3 linked regions of the Homo sapiens genome follow. Each later gene encodes a partner of the first gene's protein in a complex. Each region holds a gene or a part of one and is shown in the gene's direction. Other genes may lie near its edges.

The links. The genes of interacting proteins can lie anywhere in the genome.
Region 2: the proteins of RHOA (region 1) and TRPV4 are in contact, whole or in part, in a cryo-EM structure (PDB 9IQX), measured with the Homo sapiens proteins. Residues at the interface, in NP_001300870.1 of Homo sapiens: Met1, Ala2, Ala3, Arg5, Tyr34, Pro36, Val38, Phe39, Glu40, Asn41, Tyr42, Val43, Glu54, Trp58, Glu64, Asp65, Arg68, Leu69, Leu72, Pro75, Asp76; in NP_067638.3 of Homo sapiens: Lys177, Arg179, Thr181, Glu183, Glu184, Arg186, Pro188, Arg224, Glu225, Asn228, Ser229, Pro230, Arg232, Arg237, Asp263 (codon at 1,727), His265 (codon at 1,733), Ala266 (codon at 1,736), Gln267 (codon at 1,739), Arg269 (codon at 1,745), Asp313 (codon at 3,582), Arg315 (codon at 3,588), Arg316 (codon at 3,591).
Region 3: the proteins of RHOA (region 1) and ARHGEF25 are in contact, whole or in part, in a crystal structure (PDB 2RGN), measured with the Homo sapiens proteins. Residues at the interface, in NP_001300870.1 of Homo sapiens: Arg5, Tyr34, Pro36, Thr37, Val38, Glu40, Asn41, Val43, Asp45, Glu54, Trp58, Asp59, Ala61, Gly62, Gln63, Asp65, Tyr66, Asp67, Arg68, Leu69, Leu72, Pro75, Asp76; in NP_891992.3 of Homo sapiens: Tyr163 (codon at 6,122), Val164 (codon at 6,125), Glu167 (codon at 6,134), Thr171 (codon at 6,146), Met174 (codon at 6,155), Tyr175 (codon at 6,158), Asp178 (codon at 6,167), Cys253, Lys256, Pro257, Glu260, Ser264, Arg275, Arg281, Leu282, Asn285, Asp286, Ile289, Lys290, Val292, Gln293, Arg294, Met296, Lys297, Gln299, Leu300, Leu301, Cys327, Pro330, Lys331.

Annotation. Positions count from the first base shown.
Region 1 is NC_000003.12:49,401,971-49,408,990, reverse strand, and holds part of RHOA (transforming protein RhoA isoform 1 precursor), read left to right. Parts: intron 1-2,184; exon of another isoform or gene 2,185-2,279; intron 2,280-7,020. UniProt on the Homo sapiens protein: Small GTPase which cycles between an active GTP-bound and an inactive GDP-bound state.
Region 2 is NC_000012.12:109,795,391-109,802,410, reverse strand, and holds part of TRPV4 (transient receptor potential cation channel subfamily V member 4), read left to right. Parts: intron 1-1,652; coding exon 1,653-1,793; intron 1,794-3,498; coding exon 3,499-3,797; intron 3,798-5,706; coding exon 5,707-5,886; intron 5,887-7,020. UniProt on the Homo sapiens protein: Non-selective calcium permeant cation channel involved in osmotic sensitivity and mechanosensitivity. Activation by exposure to hypotonicity within the physiological range exhibits an outward rectification.
Region 3 is NC_000012.12:57,607,574-57,614,442, forward strand, and holds the start of ARHGEF25 (rho guanine nucleotide exchange factor 25), read left to right. Parts: upstream 1-3,861; 5' UTR 3,862-4,321; coding exon 4,322-4,418; intron 4,419-5,182; exon of another isoform or gene 5,183-5,323; intron 5,324-5,356; coding exon 5,357-5,571; intron 5,572-5,690; coding exon 5,691-5,786; intron 5,787-5,866; coding exon 5,867-5,943; intron 5,944-6,120; coding exon 6,121-6,187; intron 6,188-6,442; coding exon 6,443-6,546; intron 6,547-6,757; coding exon 6,758-6,827; intron 6,828-6,869. Other genes in the region: probable E3 ubiquitin-protein ligase DTX3, read left to right, coding at 1-40, 947-1,164, 1,504-1,579. UniProt on the Homo sapiens protein: May play a role in actin cytoskeleton reorganization in different tissues since its activation induces formation of actin stress fibers. It works as a guanine nucleotide exchange factor for Rho family of small GTPases.

The DNA of each region.
Region 1 (7,020 bases):
AACCCCGTCTCTACTAAAAATACAAAAAAAATTAGCTGGGTGTGGTGGCGGGCGCCTGTAGTCCCAGCTGCTCTGGAGGCTGAGGCAGGGGAATGGCGTGAACCCGAGAGGCGGAGCTTGCCGTGAGCTGAGATCGCGCCACTGTGCTCCAGCCAGGGCAACAGAGCGAGACTCCGTCTCAAAAAAAAAAAAAAAGGATCTTAAGTATTTTGTCTGACTCTGCCATTTAGTTTATTCCTTTGTTTACCTGCCCAATGGAACTGTTTGCTTGTAACTACACATTAATATAACTAAATTTTGAACTTAATGTTACATGCCTTGCTATACATGGGGCTCTTTGGGGACATGCTCATTTGTGGGATTAAAATTTCCAAGACGGTTTGAAGTTTGTAATTACTATAAAATCCCTCATCTTTAATCTGTGGAGCTGTAGTATTAAGTGAAGGCCTTGGTATGTTCATAATTACGATAGTCATGTGACTGAAAATCAGGCACTGAAGCTGCTCGTTCTGGGTGTTGGTCTCAGTTTATTGATGCTTCATCCAAATACATTTTTATAGCTAATAATAAAGAAAAACATCAAATACTCTTGCTAAATTGCAATCAGTATGCAGTTTATGCCAAACTTAGCTTGATTTTATTTTTTGAAGAGGATGAGTATGTATATTTAAGCATATGTGTGTGTGTGTATATGTATATATACTTGTGTATACGTATATACGTGTATACGTATATATATGTGTACATATACGTGTATACGTATATATATGTGTACATATACGTGTGTGTATGTGTGTGTGTATATATATATATTTTTTTTTTTTTCTCTTTTGAGACTGAGTCTCACTCTGTCGTCCGGGCCAGAGTGCAGTAGCGCCATCTCGGCTCACTGCAACCGCCGCCTCCTAGTTCAAGTGATTCTTGTGCCTCGGCCTCTGGAGTAGTTGGGAGTACCAGCATGCGCCACTGTGCTCAGCTAATTTTTGTATTTTTAGTAGAGACGGGGTTTCACCATGTTGGTCAGGCTGTTCTCGAACTCCTGGCCTTGTGATCTGCCCCCCTTGGCCTCTGAAAGTGTTGAGATTGCAGGTGAGAGCCACTATGTCTGGCCATATTTAAGCATATTTATGATAGTATCTTAAATTTAAGTGAAGGGAAAGAGGAAAACATACACAGCCAATGAAGTAAGTTTGAAGTGGAGTGAAAGGAAAAGTTGGAGGTAAAAAGAGGTTAGAGAGGTGGGCAGGGGCCAAATCATATAGGGCCTTTAGGACATGGGAAATTCTTTGGATTTGTTCTGAGATTAGAAGTCATTTAGATATTCTTTAGAAAGGGAATGACATGATCTGATATTAAAAAAAAAACTAGAATCACTGTGAGTAGGAGTAGATCTAATTCCATTCTGACTAAATAGTAAACTAATATGATAATTTGGACAAATATAAAAAGGAATTCCTGGCTGGGAGCAGTGGCTGATGCCTGTAATCCCAGCACTTTGGAAGTGCTGGGCAGGTGGATCACTTGAGGTCAGGAGTTTGAGACCAGCCTGGCCACATGGTGAAACCCTGTCTCTACTAAAAATACAAAACATTAGCTGGGCGTGGCAGCAGGCGCCTATAATCCCGGCTATTCAGGAGGCTGAGATAGGAGAATCACTTTAACCTGGGAGGCGGAGGTTGCTGTGAGCAGAGATCGAGCCATTGCACTCCAGCCTGGGAGACGGTGCAAGACTCAAAAAAAAAAAAAAAAAAAAAAAAACGGAAAGGATTTCATAATATTAATTTCCTTGACTTAGTGACTTCTGCCTATTTTATTTGAAGTCATTGGTTCTTCTCTTCTCTTCTCTTGAGACAGGGTCTCACTGTCACCCAGGCTGGAGTGCAGTGAGTGATCTTTGTTCACTTCAACCTTTGTTTCCCAGGTTCAAGCGATTCTCGTGCCTCAGTCTCTAGAGTAGCTGGGACTACAGGTGTGTGTGTGTGACCATGCCCGACTAATTTTTGTATTTTTAGTAAAGACGGGATCTCACCATGTTGGCCAGGATGGCCTTGATCTCTTGACCTCGTGACCCCGTGACCCACCCACCTTGGCCTCCCAAGGTGTTGGGATTACAAGCATGAGCCACTAAGGATTTGTTTTTAAAATTTTTTTGCTTTATTTTTTTCTTCTCTTTTTTTGTACTAGAGATGGTGTCTTGCTATGTTGCCCAGACAGATCTTGTACTCCTGGGCTCAAGTTGTCCTCCTGCCTCAGCCTCCCAAAGTGCTGGGATTAAAGATGTGAGTCAAGCGATTCTCGTGCCTCAACCTACCCACTAGCTCGATTACAGGTGCCATCCACCACCTGCCCACCACCCTTGGCTAATTTTTGTATTTTGTATTTTAGTAGAGACAAGAATTTTACCATGTCGGCCAGGCTGGTCTCAAATTCCTGACCTCAGGCAATCCACCCGCCTCAGCTTCCTGCTGGGATTACGGGCGTGAGCTACCCTGGCCAAGATTTTTAATTTCTGAAGCTTATAGCTGCTCTAAAGCACAAGGATTCAGTCCCATGATTTAAAAAAGTTGCTTGTTTTGACTTCAAGTATATGGTTGAGCATTCTAACTTTTGTTATGTATACATTTTTATTTTACTGTATTCTTCTAGCCATTGTATCCTAGTCTGTATGTTGCAGATGAGTTGTGATTCTCTGGTGTCTCTTCCATGGACCTAGAGATCATATGCTCTACTACTGGGATTTTTTTTTGTAACTTTGTTTGGGATATAGGCTTTGAGAGGTTAAGGAAGTAAATTTAAGATGGATATTTAATGTTGTAACACTTTGTTAATGCTTTTTTCTACAAGATAATTTTATTATGTGATATGGCAGCTTTGTTGGAAATACCTGTTTTTTTGTGTGTGTGGAAAATTTCTTTTCTGGATGAAATCTCTTGTTTAACTTTTCCAGTTATTCATAATGAAGCTCTGTTTATCTTTTGAAGATCTTAAGTTCAGAAACAGAAGGCAGGCTGCGTATGGTGGCTCATGCCAGTTATCCCAGCACTTTGGGAGGCCGAGGTGGGTGGGTCACCTGAGGTCAGGAGTTCGAAACCAGTCTGACCAACATGGTGAAACCCCATCTCTACTAAAAATACAAAAATCAGCCGAGTGTATTAGTGAGTGCCTGTAATCCCAGCTACTCGGAAGGCTGAAGCAGGAGAATCCCTCGAACTTGAGAGGCGCAGGTTGCAGTGAGCCAAGATTGCTGCACTCCAGCCCGGGCAACAGAGCGAAACTCCGTCTCAAACATACACACAAAAAAAAGAAGGAAAGAAAAGGCAGTAGAGTATCTTATTTAAGAGCATGGATTCTGGAGAGAAACTGACAGTTAAATACTAGCTCTGACACTTGATGGCTTGAGACCCTTGGCAGTAGTATGTCTCCTTTGTAATTCAGTTTTTTTCTTCTGTAGAAAGGGAATGGTAAGGAAGCGCCATGAGATTTCAGTGAGAGAGAAGCACTTACCTCAAGTGCCAGACATGTAGCCCTTCAACTAACTTATTTTATTTATTTATTTTTTGAGATGGAGTTTTGCTCTTGTTGCCCAGGCTGGAGTGCAATGGCGTGATCCCAGCTCACTGCAACCTCCACCTCCTGGATTCAAGTGATTCTCCTGCCTCAGCCTCCCCATTAGTTGGGGTTTACAGGCATGTCACCATGCCCAGCTAATTTTTTTTTTTTTTTTTTTTTTTTTGAGACACAGTCTCGCTCTGTCACCCAGGCTGGAGTGCAGTGGCGCGATCTCGGCTCACTGCAACCTCCGCCCTCCGAGTTCAAGCAGTTCTCCTTCCTCAGCCTCCTGAGTAGCTGAGACTACAGGTGCCCGCCACCACGCCCGGCTAGGTGTTTTTTTTTTTTGTATTTTTAGTAGAGACAGGGTTTTACCGTGTTAGCCAGGATGGTCCCGATCTCCTGACCTCAGGTGATCTGCCTGCCTCCGCCTCCCAAAGTGTTGGGATTATAGGTGTGAGCCACCGCGCCTGGCCTACTTTTTTTATTATTTTTTTTTTTGGAGACAAGAGTCTCGCTCTGTCGCCCAGGCTGGAGTGCAGTGGCGTGATCTCGGCTCACTGCAAACTCTGCCTCCCGGGTTCATGCGGTTCTCCTGCCTTAGCCTCCCAGGTAAACTGGGACTACAGGTGCATGCTGCCACGCCTGGCTAATTTTTTTTTTTTTTTGTATTTTAGTAGAGACGGGGTTTAACCATGTTGCCCAGGCTGGTCTCCATCTCCTGAGCTCAGGCAATCTGCCTGCCTTGGCCTCCCAAAGTGCTAGGATTACAGCCGTGAGCCACCGTGCCTGGCCTTCTGGCCTTTTTTTTTTTTTTTTTTTTTTTTTTTGAGACGGAGTCTTGCTCTGTTGTCTAAGCTGGAGTGTAGTGGCACAATCTCGGCTCACTGCAATCTCTGCCTACCAGGGTGCAAGCGATTCTCCTGCCTCAGCCTCCCAAGTAGCTGGGACTACAGGTGCGTGCCACCATGCCCGGCTAATTTTGTGTGTGTGTGTGTGTGTGTGTGTTTTACTAGAGACGGGGTTTTACTTTGTTGGCCAGGCTGGTCTTGAACTCCTGACCTTGTGATCCACCTGCCTTGGCTTCCCAAAGTACTGGGATTACGGGTGTGAGCCACTGCGCCTGGCTTTTTTTTGGAGAGATAAGGTCTTGTTTTGTCATCTAGGCTGGAGTGCAGTGGCACAGTCATAGCTCATGGTGGCCTCCAACTTTTGGTGTCAAGGTATCCTTACGCCTCGTCCTCCCTAGTAGCTGGGACTACAGGTGTATGTGCCACTGCGCCCAGCTAATATTTTTACATTTTGTAGAGATGGAGTCTTGCTGTCTTGCCCAGGTTGGGTCTCAGACTCCTGGGCTCAAACAGTCCTCCCACCTCAGACTCCCAAAGTGCTGCAAGTACGGGCATGAGCCACTGAGTCCAGCTATCTTCAACTTTCACTATTCAGGTTACAGTTTGTAGTACCTTTTTTCGGGGGTGGTGGGAGGGTAGTGGGAGTAGCACCCTAAGATTTCTTGGAATAAAACAGGGCTTACTACTTGGTTCCTGGTACTTAAGAACAGTGGTTCCTAGACTCCACTGTTCCCAAACTTGGAATCCAGTTCCCCAAATTGGAATCACCTGAGGTTTAATTACCTTCATGGAGGTTTAATTTGCATACAATAAAATGCACATACTTTAAATGATAGTTTGATAATTTTTTTGTTCTTATTTTTTTTAGACATAGGGCCTTGTTCTGTCACCCAGCTGAAGTGCAGTGTCGGAATCATGGCTTACTACATCCTCGACCTCCTAGGCCCAAGAATTCTCTGCTTTAGCCTCCCGAGTAGCTGGGACTGCAGGTGTGCACCACCACGCCTGGCTACATTTTTATTTTGTAATTTTTTTTTTTGTAGAGAGAGGGGTCTCACTATGTGCTCAGACTGGTCTTGAACTCCTGGCCTTAAGTGATTCTCTCGTCTCAACCTCACAAAGCCCTGGGATTATAGGCATGAGCCACCACAAACCGCCAGTTTGATAAATTTTGATGAATGTGTATACCCAAGTAATTGCCACTCAGTCGAGTTAAAGAGCATTTCCTCAAGGCTTTAAATTTTTATTTTTATTTTTGAGACGGAGTCTTATTCTGTCATCTAGGAGTGCAGTGCCGCAATCTTGGCTCACTGCAGCCTCTGCCTCCCGGGTTCAAGTGATTCCCCTGCCTCAGCCTCCTGAGTAGCTGGGACTACAGGTGCGTGCCACCACACCCAGCTAACTTTTTGTATTTTTAGTAGAGATGGGGTTTCACTCTGTTAGCCAGGATGGTCTCGATCTGATCTTGTGATCCGCCTGCCTCTGCTTCCCAAAGTGTTGGGATTACAGGCGTGAGCCACCGCGCTCGGCGGGTTTCTTTTTTTTTTTTTTTATGAGATGGAATCTCGCTCTGTTGCCCAGGCTGCAGTGCAGTGGCACGATCTCAACTCACTGCAACCTCCGCCTCTCGGGTTCAAGCGATTCTTCTGCTTCAGCCTCCCGAGTAGCTGGAACTACAGGCACCCGCCACCACGCCCGGCTAATTTTTTGTGTTTTTAGTGGATACGGGGTTTCGCCATGTTGGCCAGGCTGGTCTCAAAGGCCTGACCTTGTGATCCTCCTGCCTCGGTCTCCCAAAGTGCTGGAATTACAGGTGTGAGCCACTGCTCCTGGCCTAAAGTTTTTTAGACTAGTTTTTTTGTTCATTCGTTTTATTTGCTTGGCTTCCTAGAATATGACAAGTTTTGGTTTGTTTTTGAGACAGAGTCTTGATCTGTTTCCCAGGCTGGAGTGCAGTGGTGCTATCGTGGCTCACTGCAGCCTCTAACTCTTGTGCCCAAGTAATACTCCTGCCTCAGCCTCATGAGCATCTGGGACTACAGGCAAGCACCACCATACCTAGTTAATTAATTTAATTTTTATAGAGATGACGTTTTGCCATGTTGTCCAGGCTGGTCTCTAACTCCTGAGCTCTGGCCTCGCAAAGTGGTGGGATTATAGGTGTGAACCACTGCACCCGGCCTAGTTTTTTATTTTAAGAAATATATATACTTGGTAAAAGTAAACTCCTGCAATAAGGTTTACAATAAGCATATATAAATTCTTAGCCAGCTCACTGGGAGGTACCTAATGGTTCATTTTTCTTTGTCAGTTTTACTAGATACGCATTGTCTTAGAGGCAATGTAAGTTTGGAATTAGGCCAAACAAAGTCAAATCCTGATTCTGTGCATCCATTGAAGGTTAACCTTATAATATTTACATTTTGAGATAAATGATTTCATGCTCTTATTTAGGAAACTTGACGGTATGTTACCTCAGGGATTGTTCCTTGCCTGTCTTTCCCCAAAGAACTTGAGTTTGAAGTGATTTTCACTTGGCAGTAAATTGAAGGTTTTCTTCATTGCTTACCACCATGTGCCTTATTCCTGCTGCTCTTGATCTCCAAGTGCCCTTACTGCT
Region 2 (7,020 bases), on another chromosome or scaffold:
AGAATCGCTTGAACCTGGGAGGTGGAGGTTGCAGTGAGCCAATATCGCGCCATTGCACTCCAGCTTGGGCAACAAGAGCAAGACTCATCTCAAAAAAAAAAAAAAGATGCAAAAAAAGCCAGGCTTGTTGGTGCACACCTGTAGTCCCAGCTACTTGGGAGGCTGGGGTGGGAAGATCACTTGAGCTCAGAGGGTCAAGGCTTCAGTGAGCTATGATTGTGCCACTGCACTCCAGCCTGGGTGACAGAGTGAGACCCTGTCTCAAAAAAAAAAAAAAAAAGATTCCAAGATTCTGAGATGCAGCGAGTCTAGTGATCATGAACTCGGGATCTGGCCCTAAGATGCTGTGGTGGCGGATACTCTAAGGCTCTATGATAATAAGTCCTGAGTTCACAAGTTCTAAGAGGCAAAGGCAGCAGGGGGCCAAGAACTGGGCCAATCCCCAGTTGAGATTCTGTAAATCAGAGTTGACCTTCAGATGCCTGGATATTAAGATTCAAAATCCATGAATATTATATCTTGAGTCCAAAATTCTGGGAGGCCAAGGTACTGTTGTTTCCTCTAGGAGTTTTCTTTTTTTTGAGACAAGGTCTTGCTCTGTTACCCAAGCTGGAGTGCAGTGGTGTGATCATGGCTCACTGCAGCCTTGACTTCCTGGGCTCAAGGGAGTCTCCCACCTCACCCTCCCAAGTAGCTGGGACCACCGGCATGGACCACCATGCCAGGCTAATTTTTAAAATTTCTGTAGAGACAGGGTCTCACTATGTTGTTGTATTAGCCCGTTCTCATGCTGCTATAAAGAACTGCCCAAGACTGGATAATTTATAAAGGAAAGAGGCTTAATTGACTCACAGTTCCGCAGGGCTGGGGAGGCATCAGGAAACTTACAATCATTGTGGAAGGGGAAGCAAACATGTCCTTCTTCACATGGTGGTAGGAAGAAGAAGTGCCAAGCAAAAGGGGGAAAAGCCCCTTATAGAATCATCAGATCTCTTGAGGACTCACTCACTATCATGAAAACAGCATGAGGGTAACTGCCCCCATGATTAAATTACCTTTCACAGGGTCCCTCCCATGATACATGGGGATTATGGGAACTACAATTCAAGGTGAGATTTAGGTGTGGACACAGAGCCAAACCATATCAGTTGCCCAGGCTGGTACTGAACTGCTAGGCTTCAGCAATCCTCCTGCCTCAGCCTCTGGAGTAGCTGGGACCACAGGTGTAAGTCACCAGGCCCAGCTAATTTTTAGCATTTCTATAGAGATGGGATCTCACTGTGTTGCCCAGGCTTGCCTCAAACGCCTGGGCTCAGGTGATCTCCCTCCTTGGTCTCCCAAATTGCTGGGATTACAGGCGTGAGCCTGCGCCTGGCCTCCTCTAGGATTTTTAAAGCATCTTATGAATCTAAAAACTTCTCACATTCAGGATTCCACAAACTAGGTATCCTTCAGGCTTGAGATTCTGCTTCTGCGATGGATCCCAGGGAATATCCAAGGACCTATTTGCTGCCCTTGGGTGTCGCTGGGCAGGACTCTGCCTGCATCCCCCACCCCCCAATTTCTACGTCCTGCACCCTACCCCCACCCCCAGCAAGCCTGGCTAGGTCTCTGCTCCGCCAGGACCCTGGATGACCGTCCCCTGCCCCCAGGTCAGACAGCCCTGCACATCGCCATTGAGCGTCGCTGCAAACACTACGTGGAACTTCTCGTGGCCCAGGGAGCTGATGTCCACGCCCAGGCCCGTGGGCGCTTCTTCCAGCCCAAGGATGAGGGGGGCTACTTCTACTTTGGTAAGGAGGGGCCTGGTGGGGGCTGACAGCATGCTGGAGAAGCATGGCGGGAGATAGCATGATACTGGTTGGTGTCTGCAGCCCTGACCATCACCCAGACACCCAGGGCCACTCTGGCCATGAGCGCAGGCAGCACTCTGGACCACAGGCTGCACGTTGGTCTTGGTCACAGGGCCGTTGCCTCTGAGGTGTAAGTGCCATGGGGAGTACCATGGACCTGGATTCAGATCCTCACTCCAGCCAGGCACGGTGTCTCACACCTGTCATCCCAGCACTTTGGGAGGTCAAGGCAGGAGGATCGCTTGAGGGCAGGAGTTTGAGACCAGCCTAGGCAACATAGCAATACCCTGTCTCTTTTAAACATTTAAAAAATGGCTGGGCACGGTGGCTCATGCCTGTAATCCCAGCACTTTGGGAGGATGAGGCAGGTGGATCACCTGAGGTCAAGAGTTCAAGACCAGCCTGGCCAACAAGATGGTGAAACCCATCTCTACAAAAATAACAAAAATTAGCCGGGCATGGTGGTGGGTGCCTGTAATCCCAGCTACTTGGGAGGCTGAGGCAGGAGAATTGCTTGAACCTGGGGGACAGAGGTTGCAATGAGCCGAGATTTCCCCATTGCACTCCAGCTTGGGTGACAGAGTGAGACTCTGTCTCAAAAAATAAATAAATAAATAAATAAATAAATAAGTTAGATGGCATGGTGGCATGTGCTTGAAGTCCCAGCTGCTTGGGAGGCCGAGGCTGGAGGATCACTTGAACCTAGGAGTTCGAGGCTGCAGTAAGCCATGATTGCACCACTGCACTCCAGCCTGGAAAATAGAGCAAGACCCCGTCTTTAAAAAGCAAAAAGAAAAGAACAAAAAAAAAGCCAAATCCTCACTCTGCACTTTCCAGGCATGTGACCTCACTTCCCTGAGCCTCACCTTCCCCAGCTGTGCAGTGGGGATCACGAGAGGCCCTTGGGCTGTGATGTCAGCGCCCAGCTCTGTATTGTCTGTGTGCTTTAATCTGGTTTATGCTGGGACCAACAGCCCCATCACCAGGCCCAAAGCCCACCACTGCCGTTGTCATCACTGGACTCATGAAATATTTTGAATTTTGCCCCTGCTTAAAGGCATTCATTATGTGCAGCTCAGGGACAAAGTCACACAAAGAATTCCATCATCAGCTGGGCGCGGTGGCTCACGCCTGTAATCCCAGCACTTTGGGAGGCCGAGGTCGGCGGATCACTTGAGGTCAGGAGTTTGAGACCAGCCTGGCCAACATGGCGAAATCCTGCCTCTACTAAAAATACAAAAATTAGCCAGGTGTGGTGGCGTGCGCCTGTAATCCCAGCTACTCGGCTGAGGCACAAGAACTGCTTGCACCCGGGAGGTGGAGGTTGCAATGAGCCGAGATTGTGCCACTGCACTCCAGCCTAGGCGACAGAGTGAGACTTTGTCTCAAAAAAAAAAAAAAAAAGAATTCCATCATTGGATGTGTCCAGTCCCTCACAGCCTCCAAATCGCGTGGCTGTGCCCTTAACTAGCCACACCCCATCTCCCTGGCATCACCCAGAGAAACGTGCAGTTCATATCCACTGCTGGTGCTGTCTCCGTCATTATCCTCAGAGCGCCACGGTGTCCGTCCCCCGAGTGTCTGCAGGCAGAGTCCCACCCTGGGCCCCCTTCGCTGACCTCCCACCCTTCACCCTGGCCCGCAGGGGAGCTGCCCCTGTCGCTGGCTGCCTGCACCAACCAGCCCCACATTGTCAACTACCTGACGGAGAACCCCCACAAGAAGGCGGACATGCGGCGCCAGGACTCGCGAGGCAACACAGTGCTGCATGCGCTGGTGGCCATTGCTGACAACACCCGTGAGAACACCAAGTTTGTTACCAAGATGTACGACCTGCTGCTGCTCAAGTGTGCCCGCCTCTTCCCCGACAGCAACCTGGAGGCCGTGCTCAACAACGACGGCCTCTCGCCCCTCATGATGGCTGCCAAGACGGGCAAGATTGGGGTGAGTGTGCGGCTGGGGGCACAGCTGATCCACCTACTCGTACCCCTCTGCACACACACACGAGGGTCTGCTGCTGGTATTCATTATTAATACGTGCATGCACCTCCCAACATGCCAACCCCAGTGTGCAGATGTCCCAGCTCAAGAACCTGCTATGGCTCCCTAGTGTCCAGCCAAGCTCCTTAGCTTCATCCCCGAGCCTCTCGCCTCATGTCACCCTACTGGATGTTCACCACTCCACCCCCACCAGCCAGGATGAGCCACTGATAAGAAACTGAGTCCCCGGGCCCTAGCCCAGCGGTGCTCCCAGCCTCAAACCTGTTGAATGGCCCTGCCCCAGTTCCTTCCCTTTTCTGGGCCGCGCAGCATGGGGCCTGGAGAAGGGTTTCTCAACTTCAGCATGATTATTTTGGGCGGCAGGCTCTTTGTGGTGGGGACCGTCTTGTGCTATTGCCAGACATTGATCTGCATCCCGGGCCTCTACCCACCAGATGCCAGGAACACCTCCCCTTACACTTGTGACCACCAAAAATATCTCCAGAACATTGCTGAATTGTCCTCTGGGGGGCACCATCGCTGGATTGGGAACCAAGTCTGGAGTATGCTAGAGGCAGGAGCACCTGTCCAAGCCCTGGCGCTACCACTTCCCAGTGTGTGACCTCAGACATCTCATTTCCCTTTTCTGTGCCTCAGTTTCCTTGTCTGTAAAATGGGGATATAAGAGTGTCCTCTGGTGTGGTGTTGTGACAAATGCGGTGATCCACATAAGGCTCTTAGGAAGGAGCCTGGGAGAAGCAGTAAGTGTCACTTACATGTCTGTAATGCCAGCTAGTTGGGAGGCTGAGGTGAGAGGATCGTTTAAGTCCAGCCTGGATTATTTGAGATCCCAAATAAATAAAAACCAAAATAAAAAAAAATGTAGCAAAAATTACTAAAATTGCAATTATACCATGGCCCTGAGGCAGTAGAAAGGCTCCAGTTTAAATCCTGGCTTTGGCTAGGCTCAGTGGCTCGTGTCTGTAATCCTAGCACTTTGGGAGGCTGAGGTGGGAGGAGCACTTGAGCCCAGGAGGTTGAGGCTGCAATGAGCTGTGATAGTGCCATTGCACTCCAGCCTGGGCAACAGAGCCAGACCCTGTCTCAAAAAACCCCAAAATCCTGGCTGTGCACAGTGGCTCATGCCTGTAATCCCAGCACTTTGGGAGGCCGAGGTGGGCGGATCACCTGAGGTCAGGAGTTCAAGACCAGCCTGGCCAACATGGTGAAACCCCGTCTCTACTAAAAATACAAAAATATTAGCTGGGTGTGATAGTGGGCACCTGTAATCCCAGCTACTCAGGAGGCTGAGGCAGGAGAATTGCTTGAACCTAGGAGGAGAGGGTTGCAGTGTGCTGAGATCGCGCCACTGCACTCCAGCCTGGGTGACAGAGAGAGACTCTGTCTCAAAACAAAAACCCCAAAATCCTAACATTGCCTGACCTTGGGCAATTCCCACCCCTCTCTGTGCCTCCGCTTCCCTGTGTGTAAGCCAGGGAAGGAGGAGTGGTAACAGGAAGGACCGCATGTGATCGTCAGTATTATAATTCACATGTCATTAAGATGGATTCATTGCTATTTTAACGGCATGAAGAAGATATTCATTACAATTAAGATGTTGAAGGCTCATCCAGGTTCTGTCTGGCTCCAGCTGACTGGTTAAGTGGCTTCTGGAACACCCTTCGTTTTTCCCAGCCTCCATTCTTTATCTGTAAACCAAGATAATAAGAGCAAGAATTAAACAAGATGAGGAAAGGGTCCTCCAGCAGCCGGTGCTTAGCTGTTTTCTGGGGAGGCGTCATGTGCTGAGCTGGGCCCAGCCCTGGGGGTCTTTCCAGTGTGAGCCCCCTGACCCTCCTGGCCCCCTGTGCAGATCTTTCAGCACATCATCCGGCGGGAGGTGACGGATGAGGACACACGGCACCTGTCCCGCAAGTTCAAGGACTGGGCCTATGGGCCAGTGTATTCCTCGCTTTATGACCTCTCCTCCCTGGACACGTGTGGGGAAGAGGCCTCCGTGCTGGAGATCCTGGTGTACAACAGCAAGATTGAGGTGGGCTCCAGGAGGGGGCATGGGGTGTGAGGAAGGAGGGGCAGGGCTGGGAGTAGGGACAGGGCCCTGGGGCTGGGCTGGGGGAGACAGCCCCAGCCTCTAGGACCCAACGTGGTGGGTCTGTTGGCTGAATGCAAGAGAAGGTGCCAACTAAGTGCCCAGAACAGTGTCTGCCATGTGAGGAAATGAGCAAGACTTGTGGGAAGATGGACTTTTGGGGCAGGTAGGACTGGGTTGGGATCCTGGCTCTGTAACTTACATGCTGTGTGTCTCAGGACAAGTGGCTCCACCTCTCTGGGTCTCAGCTTCTTCATTTGTAACCTGGGGATAAGGATCATGGATATCCCATGGGGTTCTTGGGAGGACCAAAGAGGTTAATTTTAGAATGGCTTGGCACAGAGTAAACATTATGTCAGCTTTTACTACTCATGGTTGTTATATGAACTTTTGAAAGCTCTTTTTTTTCGGTCAGGCATGGTGGCTTATGCCTGTAATTCTAGCATTTTGGGGAGCCAAGGTGGGCGGATTGCTTGAAGCCAGGAGTTTGAGACTAGCCTGGGCAATATGGCGAAACCCCGTCTCTACCAAAAAAAAATAATAAAAATGAAAATTAGCTAGGCATGGTGGTGCGAGCCTGTAGTCCCAGCTACTTGGGAGGCGAGGTGGGAGGATCACCTGAGCCTGGGGAGGTCGAGGCTTCAGTGAGCCGAGATCATGCCACTGCACTCCAGCCTGGGTGACAGAGTGAGATCCTGTCTCAAAATAAACAAACAAACAAACAAACAAAAAACCAAGCTTTTTTTTCCCTACTTAGCAGTATTTTGTGAACGTCGTTCTGTACTTTTAAATATTCTTTGGTAATATTGTCGCTGCATGTAAACATACCATATTCAAATGAACTGTTCTCTTATTGCTGGTCGCTTGGGTTTGTTTCTGCCTTTATCAGGAATAACACTATAAGAGCATCTCTGTGGCTGCTTTATTGCACAAATCATGATTATAGAGAAACTCAAGTTAATAAAGGGCTAGGAAGCTATAAAAATGGAGCAGAAAATGCTGGGGACTGGGTGCAGGTGGTCTTCCTTCTAGCCCTGCCCTGTGGCTTACTGGTCTGTGAGCTTGGCTTCCTTGCAA
Region 3 (6,869 bases), on another chromosome or scaffold:
CATTGTCATCCAGTACGTCTTCCCGCCCGGTGTCCAGGGGGTAAGAAGACCATGGCCTGCCCTTACCCTTTGGCTTTCCCCAAGCTCTGACCTAGGAAAACCGGGTGAGGGTGAGTGTGCTTGTTAGATGTGAGACAGTCTTGCTGTCTTCCACTGTGCCCTCCTACTCAGTGCCCTGGACCTAGGAGGTCCCCGTGAGGCCCAGCCTTTCCATCCCTGTGATCCCAAGGCACACGTGAAAATCAGATATGAGCTAGGAAAAAAAAAAGCAAATCAGATATGAGAGGAAGGAATTGCATATTATTTCCTTGATGAACACAAATACTGTGCTGACATCTTGGCAGAGGTAAATTCTGTGGAGGTGGTGGCTTAGGGGAAGGGAGGCACAATAGGAAGGGATCTGACCAACCCAACAGAGCCAGGAGCATCACTCTGTAAAAACAGGAGTAGTCAAGGCCTATAGGTGTCTTCCTGCTGGACAAAGAGTAATGTGCAATTCTGGCTGCAGAGGGGTGAAGAAGCTGCACAGAAGAGTGATGGAAAATGGAACAAGTTAGACAGTGGCAGAAACATTAGGAGTATTTTCAGGTGAAGGGAAGGCTGAAAGATAGATTATTCTGTCTTCACATTTTTGCTGAGTTGTCTGGAGTGTAGGGACCAGCTAACTTCCATCACTTCTGAGAATCCATTTGTTGCTGAATGGAGACTTGAGGGATTGAGACAGCAGAAAAAATCTCTTAACACATAAGGATTATGCTCTGAAACAGGCTCTTGCTGCCGAGGCCGTATAATCTCTCCTTCTGTGGAAAGCTGTCAGCCTGTTGCTGCCCCGTTCGCATTAGCTGGGGGTGCTCAGACAGAGACTAGCCTGGATGACCCTCCTCTGGCATCTGGGCCTTAGGATGCCTGGCTGCTCACTGCCCACTCTGCTTCACCTTCCTCCCAGGCTGAACACCCAAACCCAGGAGTTCGGTATCCTGGCACCACACGGGTGGCCTACCTCCCGGACTGCCCTGAGGGCAACAAGGTGCTGACCCTGTTCCGCAAGGCGTTTGACCAGCGTCTCACCTTCACTATCGGCACGTCCATGACCACAGGGAGACCGAATGTCATCACCTGGAACGACATCCACCACAAGACCAGCTGCACAGGGGGACCCCAGCTGTGCGACCCCTCTTCATTTCCTTTCCCTTGGCTCCTCCCCTTTGTTCCATTTCCACTGAGGGACCCACCAACCCCTCGCTCACGGAGCCTCCTAACTGGAGAGAACCACTTCCAAACTGTTCAGCCATCTCAGTTTCTCCTACATTCAACCTGGTCCTGGTGTGCCCAGCTTAGCCTACAAAAATAAGCAGAACTGGGCTAAATTATCTTGGATTTGGAGGTGTCCTCCCTTAGGGGAGGTGGGGAGGTGTCTGAGCCACCTAGAATGAGGGTGAGCATGGGGATAATAGCAAGTTCAAACAGCTAACAACCCTCACCCTCATTTCTCTTTGCTCCCAGGTTTGGGTACCCAGACCCCACCTACCTGACCCGGGTGCAAGAGGAGCTGAGAGCGAAGGGTATCACAGATGACTGAAGGACATCGCCTTTGCCAAGGCCCCTGCTGTCTGCCTCTACTAGGACCCAGCAGAAGCCTCTTTCTCCTCTCTGCCCCCTGCCCCCCACACCACACCTGTAGGGGACCTGTCTGACTGGGAAGGGAGTTCCGAGAGGGAGGGGGCAATCCCTTCCCCCATCCCCCACTGGCCAAGTGTTTCAATGCAGTGTGAGCCACTCCCTTCTGGCAGAGGCCGACCTCCAAGGCTCTGTTCTCCCCTCCCCGTGTACATATACTCCCGGTTTCCCTGCCCCTCCATTGCCCTTGGCTTTTTCTGGTATGTGCTGTGCTCCACGACCAAGCCGAGAAAGGACCTAGGGTGGGGAAGGGAGGGTCTCTTGATTCCTAACCGCCCCCACATACTGCTCCACCGCTGAACTTCGGGTGCCGGGGAGGAGAAATTGGGCTGATGTGAGCTCCCCGTCACCCGCCATGGAGCCGGCTGTGTGTGTTCATCAGATACAGTTCTCCCTTAACCTTGTCCTTTCTCTCCTGTGTCTCAGTCTCCGTCAGTCTGTCTTTCTCCGCTCTTCTCTGACCCCTGTGAGGAACCTCCTTACCCTGTTCTGGAATCGCTGCCAGACTGTAGCTTTTAATTTAATAAAAATAAAGTAAAATATGCAACTCTTTATGCCACACCCGTTCTTTTCCAGGGACTGGGTGGGGGTGGGGTGGGGAGAGGGACCTGCTGGAAAGGGGAGAGGGGATGATGGGGTGATCCCTGCGTGCACTCCCAGTCCCTCTGCCTCCTGAGGACCTGGGGAAACGGGATGCACCAGCGGGCTCTGTAGTAACACTGAGAAACCCTGGGTCACTTCGATGTTGGAATTAGTATTAAGAGGGTGTTTTTTTGTTGTTCAACTATGGTTGTAGAGAAAACAACCCTAGCCACTCTGCGAAGTTTGGCTGGGGTGGGAGTGGGGGCGGAGCCGGGCAGGGGGCGGATTCCGCAGCAGCAACTCCCCGGACGCGCGCAGGCCTCAAAGCCCCCCAGCTTCAGTGCCCCCTCGACCCTGAAACTTGGAGCAGGGTGGGGGTTCAGTATGAAGCCCCCGGACCGCCCCGCCCCTGGCCGCACTGACCGGATACTGGGGGTCATGGGGGGCATGCTGCGCGCATGCGCCCTCCCTGGGCAGGAGGGGGTAAGAATGGGGGCTCGCGGTGGGGTCGGGGGTCTTTCGGGGCCTTCAGGAGGGCTGCACCCACAACTCAACTTATCCGAAAACGAGTTCTGCGGGGCAGTCGCAGGAATACATGAATTCTATTACGAGGGCCATAGCCCCGTTCTGGGCGAGCCTTTTATAACAATGTGGGTTTTGACAGGTAGGAGAAGGGGAAGGGGGAGGTCAGGGCTGCCTAGGAGGGCAGGTTCCTTACAGTGGTTCTGTCCCCGCAGCCCCCAAGGAGAAGCCCTCTAGGGTTGGTGGGTACCGAGCCAGAGTCTGAACGTACGGAGGGAGATCACAGAAGGGATCGCGAACATGAGGTCCTCGCCGGGGCTCTGCAGCCCGGTAAGAAGCTGGGGGTGGGGTGGGGCACAGTTTGCTATCCTGCGCCAAGTGGCGAATTCAAAAATATTCTATTCTTATTAGCATAAAGTTCGCATCTAATTTGCATGAGACCCATTTAATCGCAGAGACCTCCACTCTTCTTGCCTTCGAGTCCAATGTGTGTCCCCCATCCCAGTCGATCCCGAGCCCTCGCAGGCAGAGTGTCCCCGCGCCCCACCCCTGGCCCCTCGCCAGCCCGGGCTCCAGGACTTCGCCTTAATTGGCGATTAGTCTTAGCTGGAGTCCCGGGGCCTGGAGGAAAGAAGGGTCCTGAGAGAGGGCGGCATCTGGGTTGTGTTCACCCACAAAAGACTCCCCATACACGCACCCCGTACCAGGGGGCCTCTGTCCACTCGGCCGGGGACAGCCCCAAACCCAGAACATCTTCGCACAGGCCAAGGCCCCATCCACTGAGTCCTCCTTCATCGCAGAGGCCAAGGGGAGACCTGGGCAGACCCTGCAGACAGGCTGAACCCCGACCCCAGCGCTCCGCAGAGCCCGGGATGCGAGAGGGAGGGGGACCCCGGGGCAGGGGAGCACGGGCTGGGGAGGGGAAAAAGCGCTGGGGACGTGGAGTGGGAACGTGGTGGTGTCTGGGGGAGGGGCGATCGGGGCGGGAACCCGGCGCAGGCAGGAGGGGGAACGCGATGGAGAGGGCGGAGCTGGGCCGCAGAGGCCCCGCCTCGTGGCGGCCCCGCGGCCAGGCCTGTTATTCAGCTCTCCGCTCCGCTGGGACCCGCACAGCGCCAGTGGCTCGGGGGTCGGCCCTCGCCTCCTCCCCGGCCCGGGCCTAGAGCCACCCCTAACCAGAGGCCGGAGACAGCTGGAGCGGCTGCCGCATCCCGGCCCAGCCTCCCCTACCATCCCTCCCCCTTCCACTGGACATCTGGACCCTAGGCCCCCGCACCGACAGGGTTCCGGAAACCCTCCCCGCCCAGCCCGGCGGCCGGGCCCCGCGCCTCTCTCTCTCTAGAGCCCCCAGCCCTCCTCAAGACTAGACTTCCGCCTACCCCTGGACACCTCCTCCCGGTCCCCTCCCTCCCCCCCTCCCACAGCCTGGACCGGGGTAGGAGGGAGGGGGGGTGTGCGCCCGGCGCCGTCCCCGCCCCGCCCCCCGTGATTCCCCCTGCATGGCCGGCCCGGGTGGGGGGCGCGGGGGGGCCCGGGCGCCATGCGGGGGGGGCACAAAGGGGGTCGCTGTGCCTGTCCCCGTGTGATCCGAAAAGTGCTGGCAAAATGCGGCTGCTGCTTCGCCCGGGGGGGACGTGGTGAGTGCCAGGTCGAGAGGGTCCAGTGTTGAGTGGGGGGCGGGCTGGGGGTTCAGGGCATCTGTTTGCCCTGGCCCTTGGGATTTAGGGTTGGAGACTGTATGTGTTTTCCAGGAAAGTGGTTTCTTAAGTGATCCCTAAGGTCCCTTCTGCCTCCAAATTTCTGTTAGTTCAAGTTAAGGAAATAGGGGAAGGGGCAGGGAACTCATCTCTTTCCCTTTGTCAAATGGGTTTGAGAAAAACCCACCCACAATCCCCTTAGGCCTAGAACCGATTATTTTCCTCAAACCTTTTGCTAAGAATCTACTTCTGAAGAGGGACAGGAGAATGGAGGAATGAGAATGAGGTGGTTCTACAAGGGGCTTTATAAGGAATCACAGCTCTCTGTCGCTGAGCACAGGCCAACGATAACCCTGATGGACCCTCCTCACTGGCCTCCTCTATTGGGTCTACGCATGTGTTGGGGAGGTGGGCTGCAGAAGTCTTTTCTTTTTATAGTGATTACTGCAATTGGTGGAGGAGGGGACTGGGAGTGGCAGATGGACCCAGCTCATCCTCCCCTCTTCCCAGAGAATGGTCTGTACCCATTGAAAGAGGGAGGGTTGTAGGAGAGCAGATGGCCACCCCCAGCTTCCAATGTCTGCCCAGATGGCTGCCCCCACCCCCATATCTATGCTATGCTCAGGATATGGGGAACCTCCACATGTAACTGGGGGTTCCAGGCCTGGAGAGCCAGGCGTTTACCTTACTGTGCTTTCTCCCAGGGGTGCCCTGGTGAAATTTTCTATCCTGGCCAACTCAAATGAGGATGGCAAGAGAGTGAGCCCTTGGAGAGAGAGGCTGAGCATCATGAAGAGAAGACCCTGGGAGTTCCCTGGGGACCCTGAGTCTGGAGCTGGGGCAAGGTCTATCACCTCCTCTCTTTTTCCTCCCATTAGAATCCTATTCCATTGCGGGCAGTGAGGGGAGTATATCGGCTTCTGCTGCCTCCGGTCTGGCTGCCCCCTCTGGCCCCAGCTCTGGCCTCAGCTCTGGCCCCTGTTCCCCAGGCCCCCCAGGGCCCGTCAGTGGCCTGAGGAGATGGTTGGATCATTCCAAACATTGTCTCAGTGTGGAAACTGAGGCAGACAGTGGTCAGGCAGGACCATATGAGGTGAGCAGGGAACGGCACCAAAGCATGTGGGACATCTATGAAGGACACTGGCAGAGAGGGCAAGTTGGGGCCACCCAGCTACTGTCCCCGACCTCTGACACTTGATTTCTGGCCCCCAGAACTGGATGTTGGAGCCAGCTCTAGCCACAGGAGAGGAGCTGCCGGAACTGACCTTGCTGACCACACTGTTGGAGGGCCCTGGAGATAAGACGCAGGTGTGAGGACAGGCTCTGGGGAGGCTCCTTTCACTCAAGGGGCATTCGTTTGCTCACCCTAGGATGTTCTTTCCTTCCAGCCACCTGAAGAGGAGACTTTGTCCCAAGCCCCTGAGAGTGAGGAGGAACAGAAGAAGAAGGCTCTGGAAAGGAGTATGTAAGTGTCCACAGCCCTTCCCTGCAGTTGCACAACTTCCAGAAGACTGTCCCTCACATTTTAGATGGAATTTCCTCCAAGGTTGGCTATGATGATAAAGGGGAGGAGGGAGGAACGGGCTGAACCAAGGATGAGCTCCGACGCTGAAGTGGGGGCCTCCTCCTGCTTTCATCCTAGGTATGTCCTGAGTGAACTGGTAGAAACAGAGAAAATGTACGTGGACGACTTGGGGCAGATTGTGGAGGTAGCTCCCTTTACCCCTTCCCAGCCCCTCCTGCCTGCTTTTCCATCTGCCCAGGGCTATTTTCAGGAGGTGCCTGGGCGCTCCTCTGTCCCACCTCTCAAGCCTCCCCACTCCTGGACCTTCCTACTCTGGGGGCAGGGCGGCTCCCACCAGGGAGGGGGAGGTGGAACACACCCTGGATTTGTGTACAGGAGCACCATTAAGGTGGGGAGAGGGCCACCACATGCTCATGACCCAACCTCAACTTTCCCACAGGGTTATATGGCCACCATGGCTGCTCAGGGGGTCCCCGAGAGTCTTCGAGGCCGTGACAGGATTGTGTTTGGGAATATCCAGCAAATCTATGAGTGGCACCGAGAGTGAGTGGTGGAACTCTGACAGCTAGGTGCTGGAGAGGGGCCCTCATCTGGTTGTCCTGTATCCTAACATCAGCCCATTGCGACTTAAGGAATGTTTGGAGAAGTTTTGTAGGGCACACTACCAGGGCAGACAGCTCGAAACTGCTGGGAGTGGGCGAGGTGGGGGTTGTGAAATGTATTTGACCTGCTGCTTCTCTACCAACCCCTCCAGCTATTTCTTGCAAGAGCTACAACGGTGTCTGAAAGATCCTGATTGGCTGGCTCAGCTATTCATCAAACACGTGAGGCTTGAGGGGGCAGGGCCTGGGGCGGGGCTTAGGAAT